2 linked regions of the Homo sapiens genome follow. The protein of the gene in region 1 binds, or shares a complex with, the protein of each later gene. Each region holds a gene or a part of one and is shown on either strand. Other genes may lie near its edges.

What was found.
Region 2: POLD2 (region 1) and REV3L share a complex: the UniProt entries of both Homo sapiens proteins name them as parts of the tetrameric Pol-zeta complex.

The regions. Positions count from the first base shown.
Region 1 is NC_000007.14:44,113,812-44,121,790, reverse strand, and holds the end of POLD2 (DNA polymerase delta subunit 2), read left to right. Parts: intron 1-3,726; coding exon 3,727-3,848; intron 3,849-4,048; coding exon 4,049-4,172; intron 4,173-4,543; coding exon 4,544-4,658; intron 4,659-4,775; coding exon 4,776-4,974; intron 4,975-5,280; coding exon 5,281-5,361; intron 5,362-5,518; coding exon 5,519-5,676; intron 5,677-5,897; coding exon 5,898-6,025; intron 6,026-6,394; coding exon 6,395-6,496; intron 6,497-6,845; coding exon 6,846-7,006; 3' UTR 7,007-7,111; downstream 7,112-7,979. Other genes in the region: AEBP1 (adipocyte enhancer-binding protein 1 precursor), read right to left, coding at 7,530-7,979. UniProt on the Homo sapiens protein: Accessory component of both the DNA polymerase delta complex and the DNA polymerase zeta complex.
Region 2 is NC_000006.12:111,297,853-111,306,148, reverse strand, and holds the end of REV3L (DNA polymerase zeta catalytic subunit), read left to right. Parts: intron 1-5,992; coding exon 5,993-6,133; 3' UTR 6,134-7,116; downstream 7,117-8,296. UniProt on the Homo sapiens protein: Catalytic subunit of the DNA polymerase zeta complex, an error-prone polymerase specialized in translesion DNA synthesis (TLS). Lacks an intrinsic 3'-5' exonuclease activity and thus has no proofreading function.

The sequences.
Region 1 (7,979 bases):
AACTTAGAAGTGTTCTGCAAGAGAATGGGAACAGTTTATCTAATTGATCCCACTTCCTGTTACCTTGGGAAAATTAACCTCTTTTTCCCTCAGTTTCTTCTTAAGATAGTAACAAGGATTAAATTAAGTAATTTGTGGGTTTGGAGTTAGTTTTAGTTCAGAGGCTGGTTGGAGATGAGGACTTAGTTCTGGCGGTGATGGCGATTACTTCACTGGCAGAGGAAAATGGTTTTCCTATCTTCAGTGCAGATTATTCAGGTATTTGCCTGTGCTGTAGCCAGAGAGCCCCTCAGTGTGGCAAGCCTGGCGCCAGGCACCAGGAGCCAAGACTGGTGAGGATGCACTCTCTGGTCTCGAGGGGACCCCCTCTGTTCACTCATGTCTGTTTGCCTCTCCTCCTGGCCCCCATATTTGCTGGCCATGAATTTTCCTGTCCCTTGGGCCCTCTGTCTTTCCTAATAAAGTGGCCTGCCCAACACAACCCTTGTTCTTTGCCCCCATTTCTTCCCTGGTGATCTCTCCTGCAGTTGGATTACTCTTGGTGGTGAAGCAGGGACCCCCATCTCCCCCTTTGAGTTTATTTGAGTTTTAGGTGCTGCTGCATTCCCCCATTCCTACCACTTACATAAGAGTGGCTTTCCAGGTAATTTTCAAATCCATCTCCTATTATATTTTTAAACTGAGGATTTAGTAGGTGAGACCAGGTCTTACTCATTTTTACTGTCCTTGGCACCAGGCAAAATGGATCTCAGCCCTAGTTGCACATTGGAATCCCCTGGGGAGCTTTGAGAAGCCCATCTCATCCCATGCCAAGCCAAGATCAATTCTCGTTATAGGCAGGCAGGAGAACCCTGGGCCTAGAAATCTAGCTAGAACCTCAAATTCATTAGGGATATGTATTAGTCCATTTTCACATTGCTATAAAAAACTACCTGAGATAGGGTAATTTATAAAGAAAAGAGGTTTAATTGACTCACAGTTCCTCATGGCTGGGGAGGCCTCAGGAAACTTAACAATCATGGCAGAAGGTGAAGGGAAAGCAAGGCTCTTTTACATGATAGCAGGAGAGAGAGAGCAAGGGGAACTGCCAACCATTTTTAAACCATCAGATCGCATGATGGCTTGATCTCACTCACCATCACAAGAACAGCATGGGGGAAATCCACCCCCACAATCCAGTCACCTCCCACCAGGTCCCTCCGTCAACACCGTGTGGATTATAATTCCAGATGAGATGTGGGTGGGGACACAGAGCCAAATCATATCAGGATGTTTTCTGTTTTGTTTACCTGAGACAAAGTGCTGTTCACCTCTCCTCTCCCACATAATCAGGGGCTCCCTCCTGCGGCTCCGGTAGCTTTTCCTCACTTTCCTTTCAGCCCTCGGGACACCTTCCTTGGCTCCTTTCAGAGCTCAGTTACTACTTGGGCCCAATGTCAATGCCACCTTCTAGATTCTTTCCGGCAGCACCTCCTCTGGTCGCACATTTCTCTTCCAGTTATTGGAGCTGTCAAAAAAGCTCCCCAGTGATGGACGATAGCGATTTCACTGTGCTCACAGACTGGTCAGGAAACCAAACAGCTGCCACAGTGAATGTGTTGATAGCAGCGGGGCAGCAGTAGCACTCGCTCACAGGCCTGGTGGTTGGTGCTGGCCCCCACCCTGAATACCTACATGTGGCTTCTCCATGTGGCCTGTGCATCCTCACTGAAGCTCAGCCTGTCTCTCCAAATTGGTCTTTCCACTCACCTGTTCCCCAAACCTGCCCAGACCTTCCTGCTGTAGGCTTTTCCCTTCACTTGGCACACTCTTTCCCTTGTCTTCCCATGGCCCCATCTAAGCCCCACTGTCAGCTGAAGTGTTATATTCTTTGAGGGGCCACCTGAAGCCACCTTGCAATGAGGGCCTCCGTTTTCTACCTCAGCTCACCATTTGTTCACAGCACTTGTCACTGTGGCGAGTTACTTGTCTATGGCCTGTTGTCGTTCTCCTGCCTAGACCCAGTGGGCTGAGTGGGGGCAAGTGTTGGCTTTTATGTCCAGTTTTGATCTTGGTGCCAGCACATTGCCTGGGTGGAAGCATGTCCTACTATCGGTTACAGGGATGTCATTCTGCCCAGTGCTCAGGGGCATACACTTGGATCCCAGTTGTGTGCCCTTGGACACATTGCTTAACCTCTCTGTGCATCAGTTGGGTGATAATATCTACTCCTGGCACATTTTCAGCGTTGGCTGAGTTACATGTACAGTGCTTAGGCCACCTGGGGGAGAGTAAGAGTGGGATACGTGAGGATGTGGAGTCTGTTGCATTTCTGTCTGCTGCTGGCATCCTTCTTGTCTTGTTTTGAGTTGCTCGCCTCTGTCTGCTCCCTAGGGCGTAGATTTGAGGAATATTCCTGGTTCTTCCCAGGCAGCAGGGGCTCAGGCTGTGCTGGAGTCAGCTAGGCTAAGGGGCTGGTCTGGCATCCGCGTTGTCCTGTCACCTCCTTGGTGTTTTCTCCAGGCCTGGATCTGTGCTGTGTGGGCACCTGTATTCCTCCCTCCTGCCCTCACTGATTCTCCATACCTTTCTTCTCGAGAGTGCCAAGCCCCTCCCATGTGTTCTTGTTCATACCTAGGATCCCGGGAAGGGGCTGGGGAAGACGGTGCCCAGGTGCCCTGGGTAAACAAAGCCACCTGACTCCACGGGAATGGAATGGGTGGAGGGGATCTGAGGTCTGCATTTTGAGTATCTCTGGTCTCAGAGGATGAAGCATTTGGTGGGGGTTGGGGGTGGGGGGTAGGGTGGAAGAATCTAAAGTCTTAAAAGAAAATGGCAGTTATTTGTGGGACAGGGCTGTGTTGAGACTTGGCATGCTTCTTTTTAAGAGTCAGTGTTGTAATTTAGGTATAAGTGAAGCAGTACTTTGTATTAGTTTCCTGTAGGCGCTGTAACAAAGCACCACAAACTGGTTGACTTAAAACAACAGACATGGCCGGGCACGGTGGCTCACGACTGTAATCCCAGCACTTTGGGAGGCCGAGGCGGGCAGATCACAAGGTCAAGAGATTGAGACCATCCTGGCTAACACGGTGAAACCCTGTCTCTACTAAAAATACAAAAAAAAAAAAATTAGCTGGGCGTGGTGGCACACGCCTGTAGTCCCAGCTACTCGGGAGGCTGAGGCAGGAGAATGGCGTGAACCCGGGAGGCGGAGCTTGCAGTGAGCTGAGATCGCGCCACTGCACTCCAGCCTGGATGACAGCGAGACTCCGCCTCAAAACAAAAACAAAAACAGAAACAACAATAACAGAAAAACACAGACATTTACTCTCTGGCAGTTCTGGAGGCCAGAAGTTGAAATCCAGATGTCAGCAGGATTGGCTCCTTCTGAAGGCCCGAGGGGAGGGTCCTTCCTGGCCTCCTCCCTGGTGTTCCTGGGCTTGTGGCCGCATCACTCCGCTCTGCCCGTCTTCACACTCCCTCTTGTCTGTGTGTCTGTCTCTCTGTTCTCATGAGGACACTTGGCATCCAGGGCCCAACCACACCCAGAGTCCCTGGTCTCCTGTGGCTGACTCACTTTTTACTGTCACCGTGAAGTCCAGGGGGTCCTTGTACTTGATGTTCTCTCCTGGCAAGGCCAGGGCCCTGTGATTGGCCTCTCATGGAGTGCTGGGCAGGGCCTCCATGGCCTCTGTCGGGCGGGGGGGCTACTTCATCTCTGAGTCTGTACCCCTCGTGTCCCAGGCAGTGGAGTGGGAGTGAAGAAGCTGTGTGAACTGCAGCCTGAGGAGAAGTGCTGTGTGGTGGGCACTCTGTTCAAGGCCATGCCGCTGCAGCCCTCCATCCTGCGGGAGGTCAGCGAGGAGGTGAGGCAGGGTGCTACACAGTGGGGCCGCCAGGCAGACCTGGCCTCCCACTAGAACACCTCCCTGGAGGTGGGGTTGTGGGGAAGCAGGTTCAGAGACAATGGACTCCAGAGGGGTGGGGGCTGCGGTGCCAGCTCACTAACACCAGAGCTTTGGTGGGCTCTGGCCCCAAGATTATACCTCCTGTCTCTGCATTCCAGCACAACCTGCTCCCCCAGCCTCCTCGGAGTAAATACATACACCCAGATGACGAGCTGGTCTTGGAAGATGAACTGCAGCGTATCAAACTAAAAGGCACCATTGACGTGTCAAAGCTGGTTACGGGTAGGGAGCCCAATGAGAGGATGTGGGTGATGCAGGTGAAGAGCCCAGCGGTGGTGTGTTAGGGATGGTGTGAGTGGGGAGCCTGGGGGGAGTGGGGGGGTGTGGCCTGGGCACACGTGTGTTCTTGAGGAGGTAGGTGAGGCTCCAGGCGGTCGGAGGCCATCAGATTGGGTGAGACCTGGCTGGGAGATGGGTCTCCCCACCTCCATCCAAGGGCAGTGACTCCAGGAAGCAGGCATGCATCCTGGAGTCCTAGGTGAGAATTCACCAATGTGGTTGTGGAGAACTGGCTTGTTTTGCCCGTTGGGGTGACTGGAAGGAGTGGTAGCACCTGGGGCTCCCTGCTCAGGCCTGATGCCACTGCTCCCCAGGGACTGTCCTGGCTGTGTTTGGCTCCGTGAGAGACGACGGGAAGTTTCTGGTGGAGGACTATTGCTTTGCTGACCTTGCTCCCCAGAAGCCCGCACCCCCACTTGACACAGATAGGTGAGCAGCAGTTCTCGGGAGCTGGAACCAGCTCATGGTCAGTGGAATCTTTGAGTTGCACCTAGGAGGGGCTGCCTCCCTTCTCGGCACCCTGGAGGACCCCACCTTCTCCCGCAGGTTTGTGCTACTGGTGTCCGGCCTGGGCCTGGGTGGCGGTGGAGGCGAGAGCCTGCTGGGCACCCAGCTGCTGGTGGATGTGGTGACGGGGCAGCTTGGGGACGAAGGGGAGCAGTGCAGCGCCGCCCACGTCTCCCGGGTTATCCTCGCTGGCAACCTCCTCAGCCACAGCACCCAGAGCAGGGATTCTATCAATAAGGTATGGAGCCCACCTGGCTGCATTCAGCCCCAGCCCAGGAGCCTGCAAGCCTGTAAGACCCTCCTTCCCCAGGGCGAGTAGGGTACCCTGTGAGGTCTCGCAGGTCGGTGGGAAGCGCCCTGCAGTGACTCTGGGGCCTCCTGCAATGGGGCTCCTCATGCCCAGGCCCTCGCTGAGGATGGTGGGAGGCTTGAAGGGAGTGAGGGTCTATGGGACAACAACTGCATCTTCCAGCTGGTGGGGCTCTACTCTCCTCTGAGCCTGGGACTCGCCTGGGCCTGATGGCCTTCTGGGCTTCTATTCCAGGCCAAATACCTCACCAAGAAAACCCAGGCAGCCAGCGTGGAGGCTGTTAAGATGCTGGATGAGATCCTCCTGCAGCTGAGCGTGAGCGAGCTGGGGGCTGGAGGGGTGATGGGGATTGCAGTCTTCAAAGCTGCCACTGGGCAACAGAAGGCAGGCAGGAGGGCAGGGGGAGTGGCCGGAGTTGGTGTAGGGGGCTCCTTCGGGGCCCTGTGAGCTCTCCCTGCCCTGTGCCTTCCAGGCCTCAGTGCCCGTGGACGTGATGCCAGGCGAGTTTGATCCCACCAATTACACGCTCCCCCAGCAGCCCCTCCACCCCTGCATGTTCCCGCTGGCCACTGCCTACTCCACGCTCCAGCTGGTCACCAACCCCTACCAGGCCACCATTGATGGAGTCAGGTAGCTGGCACAGCCACACTTCAGTCTGACCCAGCCTTTTGCCTCAGGAGGCACAAAGAAGGGAGGGGAGGGAGGGCCCAGGAAGGTGGCAGGGCTGCAGAGGCCCACCTAGCATCTGTTCCTTCTCTCTGGGGCATCCCCACAAGAGCGCCAGATGAGCTCTGGGCTGACCACTATGGGTGGCACCCAAAGCCAAGAGTCAGCTGAGCTTTGCCTTGCAGATTTTTGGGGACATCAGGACAGAACGTGAGTGACATTTTCCGATACAGCAGCATGGAGGATCACTTGGAGATCCTGGAGTGGACCCTGCGGGTCCGTCACATCAGCCCCACAGCCCCTGACACTCTAGGTAACAGGCTCAGCCATACAGGGTGGGAGCAGAGGGCCAGGAGGCCTGGCAGGACCCTGAAGTGCACAGGGTCCCCCTGTGGGTTTGCACTTGCCAGCATTGCTGAGAACTGTCTGAGGAGAAGTTCAGAGGCTTGGCACCTGCTCTGGAAGCTACTCTGGAATCTTAATTCTAAGGCCAATGGCTGCCCACCCCAACGGGCAGCAACAGCAGGGCCAAGGTCTTGTGACAATGTCTGGAGGTGCCCCTATTGTCACACTGGGGGTCTCCTACTGGCCTGCAATGGGAGGAGGGGCTGCAGCCCCACATCCTGTGCAGAGTGCTAGTGCTGAGGCGGAACCCTCCTCAGAGCTGCCCCTTCTCCTCCAGGTTGTTACCCCTTCTACAAAACTGACCCGTTCATCTTCCCAGAGTGCCCGCATGTCTACTTTTGTGGCAACACCCCCAGCTTTGGCTCCAAAATCATCCGAGGTAATTTTTGTCTTCTGGGGGCCCAGGCTGATTTGCTGATTTGCTCTCACCTGGGGACAAGGTTCACAGAGAAGAAAACCTGCATTGTGGAGTCCCCCTGGCCCTTGTGGGATGGACAGCTGAGGTCTTCTGCACAGCTGCCATTTCACTGTGGGAGCCAAGCTGCCTCGCCAGCTGGGCAGGGACTGGAACGGCTCCCAGCCTGTGTGCCTCTCAAGGCTAATCTCTGGTCTCCTATTGTCACTGCCCCACTGTGTGCCAATGGGGACTCCTGTTTATTTCTGGCAGCTTCTCTTTGAGGCAGGACTTACTTGGAACCTACAGTGGGTCCTATGTGACTTCTTTGCAGGTCCTGAGGACCAGACAGTGCTGTTGGTGACTGTCCCTGACTTCAGTGCCACGCAGACCGCCTGCCTTGTGAACCTGCGCAGCCTGGCCTGCCAGCCCATCAGCTTCTCGGGCTTCGGGGCAGAGGACGATGACCTGGGAGGCCTGGGGCTGGGCCCCTGACTCAAAAAAGTGGTTTTGACCAGAGAGGCCCAGATGGAGGCTGTTCATTCCCTGCAGTGTCGGCATTGTAAATAAAGCCTGAGCACTTGCTGATGCGAGCCTTGAGCCCTGGGCACTCTGGCTATGGGACTCCTGCAGGGGTGCCCACAGTGACCATAGCCCATGCACCCACCAGCCGGTCTCCCTCCTCCCCATCCCTGACACCTCAGAATGTGAGCAGTCCGTGCCATGAGCTTGTTTTATTGGAGTGACCTTGGCTCCCTCCCTCTGCCCCTACTCCAACACTGCAGCAACCCCATCTCTTACGAGACTGGCAGGTGGAGCAGGAGCCTCTACACAGCCTCTGGCTCTTAGGTCCCAGTCATGTTTGCACCCCCTCAAAGGGGCAGGACCAGCCCTTCCTTTCAGTGTCCATACCAGGGGCCTTCCATGTGCTGATGGGTGATGTGACTGTGGTCAGCAGGCTTGGGAAGTGCTGCTGCTGTAGCTTGAGTTGGGCTGGGGTCTTGGTAGGACGCTGATCTCAGAAGTCCCCAAAGTTCACTGTGTAGGTCTCTACTGTTGTGAAGGGGAATGCCTGGCCAGTGGCTATCTCCTCCTCTTTCTCCTCCTCCTCCTCTTCCTCAAACTCGGGTTCCAGCTGGGTCTCAAACTCAGGCTCCAACTGGGTCTCAAACTCGGGCTCCACCTTGGTCCCAAACTCGGGCTCCACCTCGGTCCCAAACTCTGTCACCACCTCTGTGTAGGTCTCAGTCTCCGACTCCTCCCAGCCAGCGGTGGTTGGCGGTATGAGGCCCCAGGGCTCTATGGTAGTGCTCAGGGTGGTGGCAGGGGCAGGGGGCAGCGTGGGAGGCACAGTGTGGGGGCCTAGGGTGGTGGTGGCGTTGAGGCGCCGCAGCCGCATCTGTGCCCGAAGCCGCAGGCGGTGTTGTAGGCGTCGCTGCTGCAGGCGTCGCTGTTGGGGGGTCATAGG
Region 2 (8,296 bases), on another chromosome or scaffold:
TGGGGTTTGTCTGTCTTCCTCACTAAATAGCAAATGAACCAGTGAGGACAGAGGCCCAGTTCTTTGACTGTCAAGTCAGTTATGCCTAGCATATAGCCAAGCCCATGGGGCTGGTCTGTAAATATTTATTGAATAAATGAACAAGTTCCTGGTTAATGCATGATTAAAGAAGGAATATATCACTGGAGTTATTACCAACCAACTTTCAGCCATTTTTTACCAGTTTTGTGGTTCTAGTCAGTACAACCACTGAAGTCACTGGGTGCTCCCAGCTTCTATTTATTTAATAGACTTCTGTCCTGATGGCAGCAGCCAACTCTCATAGAAAATTCCCTTGCTGGATCCTAGTATGACGCCTAAATGAGAGCAGGACCTCCAGGGCTCTGCTAAGGTCAGGCTGTTAAATGGTCCTTTCCTAGACTTTCTTATGTTTTTTCTGCACTCAATGACAAACACATCACTACTTGGTGCCATCAATTTACCCAGAGCCCATCCTCCTTCAACATTAGGTGTTCATTCTTTTTTTCTTTTTATTTATTTATTTTTATTTTATTTTATTTTTGAGGTAGGGTCTCACTTTGTCACCCAGACTGAAATGCAGTGGCATGATTACAGCTCATTGCAGCCTCAACCTCCTGGGCTCAAGTGATCCTCTCAGCTCAGCCTCCCATGTAGCTGGGACTACAGGCATATCCCACCATGTTTTACTAATTATTTTTTTTTAGACATCGGGTCTCACTATGTTGCCCAGGCTGGTCTCAAACTGTTGGACTCAAGCAATCCTCCCACTTCAGCTGCCTAAGGGCTGGGATTACAGGCATGAACCATGATGCCCGGCCATCTTATTTCTTATAAAAATACAGTTTAAAAGAAAGTGATGCCACAGCCATAAAAAAAGAATAAAATCGGCCGGGCGTGGTGGCTCATGCCTACAAATCCCAGCACTTTCGGAGGCCGAGGCGGGCGGATCACGTGAGGTCGGGAGTTCGAGACCAGCCTGACCAATATGGAGAAATTCCATCTCTACTAAAAATACAAAATTAGCCAGGCGTGGTGGCACATGCCTGTAATCCCAGCTACTCAGGAGGCTGAGGCAGGAGAATCGCTTGAACCTGGGAGGCAGAGGTTGCAGTGAGCTGAGATTGCAGCATTGCACTCCAGCCTGGGGAACAAGAGCGAAACTCTGTCTCAAAAAAAAAAAAAAAAGAACAAAGAACAAAATCATGTCCTTTGTAACAACATGGATGCAGCTGGGGCTATTATCCTAAGCAAATTAACGCAGAAACAGAAAACCAAATACTGCATGTTCTCACATATAATGAACATTGGGTACTCATGGACATAAAGATGGGAATGATGAACACTAGGGATTCCAAAAGGGGGGTGAGGAGAGGAAAAGTTGAAAAACCACCTGTCAGATACTACATTTACTGCATGGGCAACAGGATCATTAGAAGCTCAAACCTCAACATCATACAGTATACCCATGTAACAAACCTACATGTATACCCTTGGATCGAAAAAAAAAAAAAAAAGAAAAAGCGATGCTATTTATAAATAATGATGGTTTGTCATCTTTCAAGAGCTATTTTAATTTGAGGTGTTTTTCAAGAACGTTCAAATGAATGTCTCCCATACACTAATTTGTAGAAATTTTTAATGAAGCAGAAATTACTAGAGATGTAATGAGAATTAGAAACACATCCAAACAGGAGATTTTACATCATTCTCAATCCAAGACCAATCAAGTGATCAGAAATAAGTGAAATTATGGAAATTGTAAACATTATAAGTCAGACCTTGTGATTATATATCAAACTCTGTAACCCAGTACCAAAAAATGTACTTCTTAAGTGTTTCTAGAATGTTTTAAATGTCTCCCATGCACTAATTTGTAGAAATTTTTAATGAAGCAGAAATTACTAGAGATGTAATGAGAATTAGAAACACATCCAAACAGGAGATTTTACATCATTCTCAATCCAAGACCAATCAAGTGATCAGAAATAAGTGAAATTATGGAAATTGTAAACATTATAAGTCAGACCTTGTGATTATATATCAAACTCTGTAACCCAGTACCAAAAAATATACTTCTTAAGTGTTTCTAGAATGTTTTAAAAATATCTGGCCAGGTGTGGTGACTCATGCCTGTAATCCCAACACTTTGGGAGGCCAAGGCAGGTAGATCACCTGGGGTCAGGAGTTTGAAACGTTTGGCCAACATGGAGAAACCCCAGCTCTACTAAAAAATACAAAAATTAGCCAGGCATGGTGGCATGAGCCTTGTACTCCCAACTACTCAGGAGGCTGAGGCAGGAAAATCACTTGAACCCAGGAGGCAGAGGCTGCAGTGAGCCGAGATCACACCACTGAACTCCAGCCTGGGTGACAGAGCAAGACTCCATCTTAAAAAAAAAAAAAAAAAAAAAAAAAAAAAAAAAAAAGTCATAGTCTGTTAAAAAAAAAAAAAAAAAGCCTCGGCTGGGGATCATGGCTCACGCCTATAATCCCAGCACTTTGGGAGGCTGAGGCAGGAGGATCACTTGAGGGCAGGAGTTTGAGACCAGCCTGGCCAACATGGCAAAACCCCATCTCTACTAAAAATACAAAAATTAGCAGGGTATGGTGGCAGGCACCTATAATCCCAGCTACTTGGGAGGCTGAGGTAGGACAATCGCTTGAGCCAGGGAGGCAGAGGTTACAGTGAGCTGAGATTGTGCCACTGCACTCCAGCCTGGGCAACAGAGTGAGACTCCATTTCAAAAATAATAAATTAAAAATAAAATAATAAAAATTAAAATTTAAAATTAGCCAGGCATGGTGGCGGGCACCCGCAATCCCAGCTACTAAGGAGGCTGAGGCAGGAGAATCACTTGAACCTAGGAGGCAGAGGTTGCAGTGAACTGAGATCATGCCACTGCACTCCAGCCTGGGCAACAGAATGAGACGCTCTCTCTCATCTCAAAAAAAAAAAAAAAAAGAAAGAAAAGAAAGCCTCAGTACATTTCAAAAAGTAGAAATATTACAAATGAATGTAATACAATGCTATAAAATGGTAATTAATTACAAACTAAAAAAAAAAGTGATCCTTCCACTTGTAAATTCTGTTAAACAAAATGAAAACACTGCAAATCAGATTCTAGATGGCAGACCTCAGAGAAAAATTCATCACCTTAACACTGTTAATCATAAACATGAAAGAATGAAAGCAAATGAAGCAAGCATCTGACTGAAAAATTTTTTTTGAGACGGAGTCTCACTGTTGCCCAGGCTGGAGTGTAGTTGGTGCAATCTTGGCTCACTGCAACCTCTGCCTTCCAGGTTCAAGCAATTCTCCTGCCTCAGCCTCCCGAGTAGCTGGGATTACAGGCATGCACCACCACGCCCAGCTAATTTTCGTATTTTTAGTGGAGACAGTTTCACCATGTTGGCCAGGTGGTCTCAAACTCCTGACCTCAGGTGATCCACCTGCCTCTGCCTCCCAGAGTACTAGGATTACAGGCATGAGCCACTGTGCCCAGCCTTGACTAAATTTTTTTTGAACAAGAAAGCCAAAGGATAGTAAAAAGAATAAAGATTAAAGCAGATATTTTTTAAGTGCCTGCCTCCCTATGTGCTACAAAGTAGATGTCCGGGTTGGGGCACTAAAGTTTTAAATGTAAGCCTGAATCAAGCTATAATGCTCAGGGTTTAAACCAGTAAAGGATCTTGAAACTAAACACTGAGTTAAATTTAGTGAGTCAAGTAATTCCATCCTGGCTTATTTATCAGACAAGCACAGAAAGAGCTTAAATATTTATCAGTTTGTCCTGGCACCTGAATGTAACTGCAATTCATAGAGCTGTAATACAGAAATTCTATATTTGGGAATAGATTTGAGTCTCTTGGCAGAGATCTAATTAGCAAAGGCTTCATCATAGAACAGCATACTCAGTCTTCATGGAGCATACTGAAGCACATGTTTGTAAGCAGTCTGCTTGTGACAATATCATAATATTGGATACAGTAACCAGTCTACTTAGAAAAAGTGTGCCCTTCGGTTAACTGGAAGATAACTGGGGCAAAGAACAAAACTTCACTGGCCTGTGAGCCATCTCTGAAACTGAAACCCTTTGATAAATATAGATCAAAGAATTCACTAGAGCGTATTTGATTTCTCTTAAAAGACAATCCAGAGTAGTTGTTGCCATTTGGTATGGCTTTTTTAAAATCACTTGTCTACACTATTCAGGTGAAAGTCGGCCTGCATTTTCTTAACCTTTGGAGTCTTCATTGGCATCCTTTTTAATTTTTTTATGTTCTTCATGTTTTATAACCTTTTTTTTAACTATATATGCAACTTGAGACTTTAAAGTATTTTTAAAAATTGATCATTGTGTAAAACATTATAGTGCTTCTCTTTTTAAAAATTGCCTTATGATTTATTATTTTCCTTAAGATCAGATCTTATTATACATCCAAATCATCTGGGAAGCCTTAAGAAGTACAGATTCTTAGGCTTTCATGCCTGGAGATTCTGACTCATTATGGGTCTGGGATGGGGCACTTGTTTATTTTTAAGCTCATTGTTAGCCAGGGTTAAGAACCACTGGTCTGCACCACTACTTTCAAATTCACATTATTTGATTTTTTTTTTTTTTGAAATTTTACAGCTGGGTCTCTGGGGGTGACATCACATGTTGGCAGGTTCCTTGATGCCCCTTGAGCCACAAAACCAGCAAGTTTTTATTAGGGGTTTCAAAAGGGGAGGGGTGTACGAATAGGGAGTGGGTCACATGCTTCAAAGGCAGTAAAATATCACAACAGCAAAGAGGCAGAGTGAGATCACAAGGCCAGGGTGAAACTAGAATTACTGATGAAGGTCCATGTCGTGCTGGGCACACATTGTCATTGATAAACATCTTAACAGGAAACAGGGTTCGTGATCAGACAACCAGTCTGACTAGAATTCGCCAGGCTGGAATTTCCTAATCCTAGCAAGCCTGGGGGTGCTGCAGGAGGCCAGGGCATATTTCATCCCGTGTCTACAACTGCATAAGACAGACACTCCCAGAGTGGCCATTTTAGAGACCTACCCCTGAGAATGCATTCGTTTTCCCGGGGTTATTCCTTGCTGAGAAAAGAATTCAGCGATATTTCTCCTATTCGCTTTCTGAAAGAAGAGAAATATGACTCTGTTCTGCCAGGCCCTGCAGGCAGTCAGATTTTATGGTTATCTCCCTTATTCCCTGCAAATCGCTGTTATCCTGTTCTTTTCAAGGTGCTCAGATTTCATATTGTTCAAACACACATGCTTTACAAACAATTTGTGCAGATAACGCAATCACCACAGGGTCCTGAGGCGATATACATCCTCAGCTTACGGAGATGACGGAATTAAAAGATTAAAGACAGGCATAGGAAATTATAAGAGTATTGATTGGGGAAGTGATAAATGTTCATGAAATCTTCACAATTCATGTTCAGAGATTGCAGTAAAGACAGGCATAAGAAATTATGAAAGTATTAATTTGGGGAACTAACAAATGTCCATGAAATCTTCACAATTTATGTTTTTCTGCTGTGGCTTCAGCAGGTTGCTTTTCTCTTCTGGAATACGAAAAAGAGTAACTTTTTTATGATTGGCATATGAGAATATAGTCTAAGTACTTTGAAAACGTGTTTATAGTTCATGTAAGAGACATTCTTTGGTAATTGGGTAGCTTATGTAGATTTTAATAGGATTCCATTGTAAATGAAAGTTAATCTTAGGAATTAAATGAATCCTTAGGGAAATTTGTACTCTATCTTTACAAAATAATATCCTTTAGAAATGTCTCAACATAGGGTAGTCTAGGCTTCCAAGAGATTAAAATTAATGAAAGTTTCTGTAATGTATGTCTGCCAGTAATCTGTGGTAGTCTAGAAAGTAGGGATTATAAAAATTTGTTGTTTGCATACACGCATAAAAACTTTCCTATTATTTTTTGTATTTCTCTTATGCTTTCAGATATGCAAGAACTGTACAGGTTGCTTTGATCGACACATCCCATGTGTTTCTCTGAACTGCCCAGTACTTTTCAAACTCTCCCGAGTAAATAGAGAATTGTCCAAGGCACCATATCTCCGGCAGTTATTAGACCAGTTTTAAATTGTCAATATCACAGTATTACAGGTGCTATTTTTTTCAGTGCTTACCACTAAACTGTTGTGCATGGTGCTTTTTAACTTTCATCGAGTCAAGGATGTTCACTGTCTGTTATCTGAAGACTATGAAGACTTCTATGCTAACCGAATTAAAATGTACTTGTTGATCTCTGAATAGCTCACTTCTTACAATGTACAAATTCCTCATTCTGTCACCTTTTAAACATTGTTTTATAATGCAGGTGTTGGATTTGCTCCAGTATGTGTACCATCTTGTAAATTCATTTGAGTAGATCATGTTTACTTCCCAGTGGAAGGAGCACTGAAAACCTCTTAAAGAAAAAGCATTTGTGTGTTTTCCTTGAACTGTCTGTATCAAGACGTGTTACTTCGAGATATCCATTCACTTTATAATTTTGACTGCAAAATATTTTGTAAATACACTTTTTTACTTTTCAAACGAGCAAAATAATGTGCAATGATTTTTATACAAATGATTTTCAAGTTGTTTGGTATATTTCCTCTAGGTTTTGCTTGACTCAAAGTAGATCGTTATTTTGATCAAACTGTGCAAACAGTAGTACCACGTGTAGCATTTTGAAACATTATTTTTTTTTAAAAAATGCTGTCTTGCTTTAGCTATTAATGGGGCATTGTGAGGAACTGTGCAAAGACATTTTTGTTACAAACCTGTGGGCCTGTTGCAATACTTTAAAAATAAAAAATTTTATTCCATTTGCTTGTTTTGTATAGACATTTCTATTGCTTCTAAATATACTTAAAATATTTTCTTTCCTTATGTACTGTACAGTTAATCTTATTTGCCATCATCTTGAACACAAAATGTGTATTTAGAATATTTGTATAACTGTGTAAAATAAAAAAGGAATTATGTGGTCAGTGCATTGTTTTTTAAACTGGAAATCATTTTGTTTTAAAAGTTAATAATGGAAACCATATTAAAATTGAATAAAATATAAAATAATATAGCAGTGTGACTTCATCTTTTTTATAAGCCTGTATTGGTTACATCTTTCTTACCCTACCCTTTTCTGAGTTTTAATGAAGTAAATTATTTAACATATTTTTATATCCTGTTTGATATTGCAATTTCCTTACCAAAACTTCTTCAGGGTTAAAACAAAAAAAAAAATAAAAAAAGGGCAGCAAAAATGGGAAAATTTAATTTAGCACTCATCCTTTTAGAGAGTTTTAAGAGTGTACTTGTTTGTTAGTAGATCTTCAGTGTTCATTTTCATTTTGATATAATTATTAATTAAATTACAGAGAAAGCAAAAACTACATTACTTCTTAAAAACTTAAATGCCAATTTTTATATGCCTATTTTTTTCAATAGAAAAAAGTTAGTTATTATTTTAACAGAAATAACTCACCTGGTTATTTAACAGAAATAGGTCTTCCATTGCCAGAATATGTACTTGCAAATGTTGGGAGGATTCTTTTTCTGAAAATTACATGGTAAATATGGAACCAAAGAGATACATAGCCTGTGTCTGAACATAATTTATTTCAAGTCTTGTTAAGACATAATGAATTTCCACTTCTGGGGATTTTTTTTTGTTTGGGAGGCTGGGGCTAGTCCTCAGCATTGGGGTTTTTTCCCCCTTTTATATGTGTAGATTGATGAAATTCTGTTACTTACAAGTTCTGTGCTGTCAGGACTTCCACACACATCATCTCTTTCTCATCATAGTAACTTGACACAATATTTTCAACACAATAACCATTTTTAACCTGATTGATTGATTATAATTGGATACAGCCATATTAACAAATGGTTATTCAACATGAATGCCTAAAACTAGCTCACACTCAGCCTGTCTCTGGTTCTGTTTTCTGCAGGAAAGCTCCTCCTTTGTAACTGTCCTCAGAGTCTGTAGCTTAACTGCCTTTTAGTGAGGTCCATTTGCTGTTTCACTAACTCATCGGGGAGGGTGCTGAAATTTGGAACTATTTTACCAAGAAATTTTCTTGTAAGGATCTTCCTGTGTTCCATAATTTTCCCTCCTTTTTAGATGATTGGCTATTAATAAAGTTTTGTCTCTCAGATCACAGAAAAAAAAAATTTAAGTATGGCTGAAGAAACAGTTTCATTCTTTAGGATGTTTTCATTTACCTGAAAAGGAGCCAGAAGCTCAGAGACATC